2 linked regions of the Homo sapiens genome follow. The protein of the gene in region 1 purifies or fractionates together with the protein of each later gene. This does not show direct contact. Each region holds a gene or a part of one and is shown on either strand. Other genes may lie near its edges. The genes, in order: MX2 and FXN.

Evidence for each region.
Region 2: the proteins of MX2 (region 1) and FXN fractionate together in Homo sapiens (co-fractionation; one large-scale study listed by BioGRID). This does not show direct contact.

The regions. Positions count from the first base shown.
Region 1 is NC_000021.9:41,392,758-41,396,579, forward strand, and holds part of MX2 (interferon-induced GTP-binding protein Mx2), read left to right. Parts: intron 1-2,829; coding exon 2,830-3,028; intron 3,029-3,822.
Region 2 is NC_000009.12:69,038,432-69,042,253, forward strand, and holds part of FXN (frataxin, mitochondrial isoform 1 preproprotein), read left to right. Parts: intron 1-3,822.

The sequences.
Region 1 (3,822 bases):
GTTGAATTATTCCCTTGCAGACTTGAGTTACGTGTATTTTACAATTCTTTTAAAAAGGAAATTGAGGCCGGGCATGTTGACTCATGCCTGCAATCCCAGCACTTTGGGGGGCCAAGGCGGGCGGATCACCTGAGGTCAGGAGTTCGAGACCACCCTGGCCAACACGGTGAAACCCCATCTCTACTAAAAATACAAAAAATTAGCCGGGTGTGGTGGCACAGGCCTGTAATCCCAGCTACTTGGGAGGCTGAGGCACGAGAATCGCTTGAACCTGAGACGAAGTTTGCAGTGAGCCGAGATTGCACCACTGCACTCCAGCCTGGTGACAGAGTGAGATTCTGTCTCAAAAAAGCAAAAAAAAAAAAAAAAAAAAAGAAAGAAAGAAAAGAAAAAAAAAAGAAAATTGAATGACTACACAATACTTCCAAAGGATGAGAATAGAGCAAATTTGATTATAATATAACAGTGGCTTAGAGAATATCAAGTTTCAAAAAGAACAGTGGGTCGATATTTTCAGGCCCTCACTAAGCTGGTTCCCCACCTGTCCATTGCTATGGATGTTATCTACTCCCTTGGCTTCAGCCGAGCTCCTGTGCCCTCTTAAGACAGAGACTGCTCCTGTCGAGGTCACCCACACCCTCTGCACTGAGGAGCACATGGTCACGTCTCTGTCCTTGCCTCTCCTTTCTCAGCAGCAGTCACCCCAGTTGCCCACTCCCTCCTTCCTGAACCTCCCTCCTTCCTGAAACTCCCTCCTTCCTCCACCATTCTCTCTCTCTCGGGTCGCTTCCGTCACTGGCCAGCTGGAAGTCACATTCTTAGACTCCTTGTCTCCATGCCTCTTCAATTCTCAGGCCTCTAAGTATGGAAAACTTGGTTCTGGGCTCTCCTTCTATCAACGCATCATCACATTAAGTGATCTTATCCGGCTGTGGTTTGTAATCCCATCTACATGCCAGTGACTCCCAAATCTGTATCTCTAACCCTGACCTTGCTTAACTGGACAACTCCGTTTGGCTGTCTGGCCAATGTCTCCAGTTAAACGTGACCAGAACAGAACTCTTGGTTTCGTACTCCATCCTGATTCACCTCCTCTCCAAGGCTTCCCCACCTCATTCACAGAACCCATCCGCCCACCCAGTTCTAAAGCCAAATCAAAGAGTCCCACTTGAGTCCTCCCTCCCCTTGCCTCCAAGTCTAATGTATCTGAAGTCCTGGTGACTCTGCCTCCAAAACGGGTGCCAAATCCATCCACTGCTCTCCATCCCCACTGTCACTGCCTAGACCAAGCCACCATGGTCTCCTGCCTGGTCTGCTCAAACATTCTCCTGCTGTTCGAGCACTCACCTTGCCCATGGCAGTGCCCTCTCCACTGGCCTCCAGACATGTCAATCGGGTCATGCCCCTCTCTGTTTACATTCTCTCCTGCTGCCATCTCACATGCATATAAACCCCGGACTCCTTTATCTAGAAAGCAGAGCCCCAGGTGACCTGGCCCTGCCTGCCTCTCTGATCTCAGTTCCACCGCTCTCTGCCTTGCTCATGACCCTCCAATACGGCTCTGCCATCCCTGCTCCCTCTCAACCAGGGTCTGGAGTGCTCCTTCTCCCTCCCCACTAGGCTGACTCCTCCCTTCCTTCAGATGTCAGTCCAAATGTTGCCTTCTGAGAGCGGACCTCCCTGTCCACCCAACTTGAGACTACATCACGCACCGCTGCCCACGGTCATTTGCCAGCACGTCACTTTATGTTAATTCTCTGCATAGCCCTTATCAATATCCATTCTTCTTTATTTCTCGTATATTACTAGATTAATTTATCTGGAAAGAGAGGTTCAAGAATAGTAGACCAGATAGCCAGACTTACCCACAAATTAAAACGAAGGACAAAATAGCGGAAGATAAGGCCAGGCACGGTGGCTCATGCCTGTAATCCCAACACTTTGGGAGGCTGAGGTGGGTGGATCATGAGGTCGGGAGTTTGAGACCAGCCTGGCCAACATGGTGAAACCTCATCTCTACTAAAAATACAAAAATTAGCTGGGCGTGGTAGCACATGCCTGTAGTCCCCGCTACTCAGGAGGCTGAGGCAGGAGAATCGCTTGAACCGGGGAGGCGGAGGTTGAAGTGAGCCACTGCACTCCAGCCTGGGCAACAGAGCGAGACTCCATCTCAAAAAAGAAAGAGAGAGAGAGAGAGAGAGAAAGGAAGGAAGGAAGCAAGGAAAGAAGGAAGGAAGGAAGGAAGGAAAGAAGGAAGAAAGAAAAGTGCTTTTCAACATACACAAACAAGAAATGCAGTGGCAATTTGACACTCAAGCAACATAAACAAAAAAGAGCACTTGGAATTCAAAGTTTTCAATCCAGTGCAAGCAGGAAGGAGTGGGGACAGAGGAGGGGGAGAGGAAAGTGGGAAGGAGGAGATCAGAGGAGGTGCCCACAAGAGGGAGCGGAGTGAGTCTGTTCAGGAGACACTAGAGAGGGACTCCCCTCAGTAGGGAACAAGGCATTTCTTGGAAACATGGTGCATGGAGCCAGTCCATTCTAACCATGCATGCTGCCTTAGTGCTGGGCACCCAGTAGGCATCCACGAAATATTTGTTAAGTCAACTATCCAGGACACTGAATGAACTGAGTGAGAGGGTGAGATAGCGAGCCAATAGAAATGCAAAGAAGAGGGGCAATGAGGGAATGAGGATGGAATGAGGCACTGGAGGATCAAGACTGCAGAAGACCTTGTTGGCCAAAAAAGGAGCCCATAGTCCAGTAGGAGTCAAACCTGTTTGAGGGGATCACTGACCTTTCCATTTCCCTTCTTTAACCATCTCACAGGTATCCTGACCAAACCAGATCTAATGGACAGGGGCACTGAGAAAAGCGTCATGAATGTGGTGCGGAACCTCACGTACCCCCTCAAGAAGGGCTACATGATTGTGAAGTGCCGGGGCCAGCAGGAGATCACAAACAGGCTGAGCTTGGCAGAGGCAACCAAGAAAGAAATTACATTCTTTCAAACACATCCATATTTCAGGTGAGACTCTTCAGGAAAGCTCTGGAATTAGACTCCATGAAAGCCAGCCCATCTGCAAGAGTTGGCCCAGATCATGACCAAAGTGTATGCACAAATTACACAAGGTAGTATAACCTAGCCTCACCTGATTTTTGTGCTAGATTTCTTGGCTTATTTAGACAAATTATTGTTTCTTAGATTCCAATGATGGTGCTGATTAAAAACTGGAATGTGTCATGACATAAAGCGTAGAACTCTTTGGTTTCCCAAAATGTTTTCACTTCCTTTCTGATTTGAGTCCTTATATTAAGAGATACATAAGGCAGGTGAAGTTTCTCCCATTTCCATGGATAAGAATAATGAGGTCAAACAAATAGTGAATGGGAACAGGACTGAACACAGAGCACCTAACTTCCAGAAACCCGTGTGTACCACCGTAAACGGCACACAGGAAAACCTGCTCGATGGAACTCTCCGTGTTTTTAGAGCCTCCAGTGCCCACAGTCATTTGCCAGAATATCACTTGTTTTTATTAAATAGAAACTTAATAATAACTGGCTTTATTAAATAGAAATTATCCTATAGAGACTCTGTAGTTTGTAGGACGCTGGGATTGTTCCCATTGAATGGAGCACTTTTCCCCTTCATTCTGGAACTTGTTGTTCCTGAATGATCCAGGAGCACAGAGGTCACTCCTGCTTGAAGGAGAGCTAATGGGAAAACTGAATTTGGGCCGAGTAGGTCTACGGCTTGCTGACTATGTGATCTTACAATATGGGCCACCTTCTCGGAATTTTGCCTTTCCCATCTTCTCC
Region 2 (3,822 bases), on another chromosome or scaffold:
TTTCTAGTTAAAAAGAAAAAAAAATCATTTTCAACAATATATTTATTCAACCTAGTACATACAAAATATTATCATTCCAACATGTAATCAGTATTTTAAAAATCAGTAATGAGACCAGGCACGGTGGCTCACGACTGTAATCCCAGGACTTTGGGAGGCCGAGGCGAGTGGATCATCTGAGATCAGGAGTTCAAGACCAGCCTGGCCAACATGGTGAAACCCCATCTCTACTAAAAACTAGCTCAGCATGGTGGTGGGTGCCTGTAGTCCCAGCTACTCGGGAGGCTGAGGCATGAGAATCACTTGAGCCCAGGAGGCAGAGGTTGCAGTGAGCCAAGATTTTGGGGGATTCTGTGACATACAAAAAAAATCAGTAATAAGATATCTTGCATACTCTTTTCGTACTCATATACTTCCAGCATATCTCAATTCACAATTTCTAAGTAAATGCTCTATCTGTATTTACTTTTATAAAATTCACAATTAAAAATGAAGGTTCACATAGTCAAGTTGTTCCAAACACACTTAAATGTCTCCTAGGCTGGGTGTGGTTGCTCACACCTGTAATCCCAGCACTTTGGGAGGCTGAGATGGGCGGATCACCTGAGGTCAGGAGTTTGAGACCAGCCTGGCCAACATGGTGAAACCCCGTCTCTACTAAAAATACAAAAATTAGCTGGATGTGGTGGCACTCACCTGTAATCCCAGCTACTCAGGAGGCTGAGGCAGGATAATTGCTTGAACCCGGGAGGTGGTGGAGGTTGCAGTGAGCCGAGATCGCACCACTGCCTTCCAACCTGGGCGACAGAGCGAGACTCCGTCTCAAAAAAAAAAAAAAGGCTCCTAATAACTTTATTACTTTATTATCACCTCAAATAATTAAAATTAAATGAAGTTGAAAATCCAGGTCCTCAGTCCCATTAGCCACATTTCTAGTGCTCAGTAGCCACGGGGGCTGGTGACCACCACATGGGACAGCATATTTAGTACCTGATCATTGGTTCTCAGATCTGGCTACTCAGCAGAACCAAGAATCCACAGAAACGGCTTTTAAAAGCACAGCCCCACAGCCCCCAGCCCCAGCCTTACCTACCTGGAGGCTGGGAAGGACTCTGATTCCACGAGGCAGCCTATGTTTTTTGATGGAGGGATGTGACAGGGGCTGCATCTTTAACGTTTCCTCTTAAATACTGGAGACAGCTTCGAGGAGGAGATAACTGGATGTGTCTTAGTCCATTTGATGGAGGGATGTGACGGGGCTGCGTCTTTAACGTTTCCTCTTAAATACCGGAGACAGCTTCGAGAAGGAGATAACTGGATGTTTCTTAGTCCATTTTCTGTTGCTTGTGACAGAATACCTGAAACTGGGCAATTTATATGGTAAAAAATTTTCTTCTTACTGCTCTGGAGGCTGAGAAGTCCAAAGTCAAGTCCCTTCTTGCTGGTGGGGACTTTGCAGAGTATTGAGGCGGCACCGGGCGTCATATGGTAAGGGGCTGAGTGTGCTACCTCAGGTGTCTTTTTCTTTTCTTATAAAGCCTAACTAGTTTCACTCCCATGATAACCCATTAATCTATGAATGGATTAATCCATTATTGAGGGAAGAACCTTCATGACCCAGTCACCGCTTAAAGGCCCCACCTCTCAATACTGCCACATCGGGAATTAAGTTTCAACATGAGTTTCGGAGGTGACAAACATTCAAACCATAGCATGCTGTCTCTTAAATGACTCAATAAGCTCCTGTGGCATCCACTTCTGCATGCCTTGGGCAGCTTTTAGACATCTGTCCATTTTCCTAGAGGGACAAGACCACCACCTGTGATCCTATGACCTTTTGGCTTTAGGCCTAACAAGCAGGTTATACCCTCACTCACTTTCAAATCATTTTTATTGTCTTGCAGACAATTTACACAAGTTTACACATAGAAAAGGATATGTAAATATTTATACGCTGCCGGGCGCGGTGGCTCACGCCTGTAATCCCAGCACTTTGGGAGGCCGAGGCAGGTGGATCACGAGTTCAGGAGATGGAGACCATCCTGGCTAATACGATGAAACCCCATCTCTACTAAAAATACAAAAAATTAGCCGGGCGTGGTGACGGGTGCCTGTAGTCCCCACTACTCGGGACGCTGAGGCAGGAGAATGGCGTGAACCCGGGAGGCAGAGCTTGCAGTGATCCGAGATCGTGCCACTGCACTCCAGCCTGGGTGACAGAGCGAGACTGCATCTCAAAGAAAAAAATAAATAAATAAATAAATATTTATACTGCTTATAAACTAATAATAAATGCTATGGTCTGCATGTTTGTGTCACCCCACCATTCATATGTTAAAACCTAATCACCAAAGTGATATTAGGAGGTGGGGCCCTTGGGAGGTGATGAGGTATGAGGGTGGAGCCCATATGATTGGGATTAGTGCCCTTCTAAAATAGCCCAACGGAGCCCAGTGACAAGGCATCATCTATGAACCAGGAAACTGGCCCTCACCAGACACCAAAGCTGTTGGTGCATTGATCTTGGATTTCCCACCCTCCAGGACTCTAAGAAACACATTTCTATTGTTTATAAGCCACCCAGTGGCTGGTATTTTGTTATAACATCCCAGACTAAGACAAATAACAAATACTTGTATCCCTGACACCAGGTTAAGAGATAGAATTTGTTTGTTCCTCTGGAGGCCCTTGTCTTCACCCCATCACTGCCCTGTCCTCCCTGGAGGAATCTGCCAGCCCGAATTCTGTTCATCGTACCCTCCTTTTCTTAGAGTTTGACCTCCTCTGTATCTCCCCCAATCCATGTATTGCTTATATACAAGGTATTCTGCTGTATCTGTTCTGCTATGGCTTGCCCCTTTTGTTCAACACTGTTTTTGTGCGTCATCTGCATTGATGCATGCAGTTGTCCTTTATTTGTTCTCACTGCTGGATAGTATCTGGTTGGGTAAATATATCACACTGTAAATCACACTATCCAGGTTCCTTTAGGTGACATTTGGTTGATTGCAGTGTTCTGTTGTTACGATGGTGCTGCTGTGACTGTTCTTGTGCATGGACAGAAGTTCCTTTCAGGTGAATTTCTCAGAATGGAATTGCTGGGCAAAGGGGCAGCCAATAATCAACTCATTTGATGCCAAAAGTGGTGGTGCCAGTTCATCCTCCCCTGCGAGGTATGGGTCCTGATTCACTCTTCAAGTGCTGTGGTTTGACAGGGCCGGGGGTGACAAGGGGACACCTGGGAAGGAAAGCTGGGCTCCCTGCTGGCCATCCAGGCCAGTCCTTACCAGGGGGTAGGCAATGATTGGGTCAAGTGGTTCCTGACCACTGGGCCTGAGACTTCAGGCCCAGAAACTATCTAATATTTCCTCAAATGCATCCCATGAGCAGGCACTGTGTGAGTGAGCACACACATCTGAAGCCTCAAGCTAGGCAAGCCTACCATGACTTGTGGTCCAAGGGCTCACGGGTGACCTGGAGTTAGAGGGAGACATGGCTGCCAGGTGGCTTTAGAAAGAACACTCATCATGGCCAGGTGCGGTGGCTTACGCCTGTAATCCCAGCACTTTGGGAGGCCAAGGTGGGTGGATCATGAGGTCAGGAGTGAGACCAGCCTGACCAACATGCTGAAACCTGTCTCTCCTAAAAACACAAAAATTAGCTGGGCATGGAGGTGCACGCCTGTAATCCCAGCTACTCAGGAGGCTGAGGCAGGAGAATCACTTGAACCCGGGAGGCGGAGGTTGCAATAAGCCTAGATTGTGCCACTGCATTCCAGCCTGGGCAACAGAGCAAGACTCCGTCTCAGAAAAAAAAAAAAAA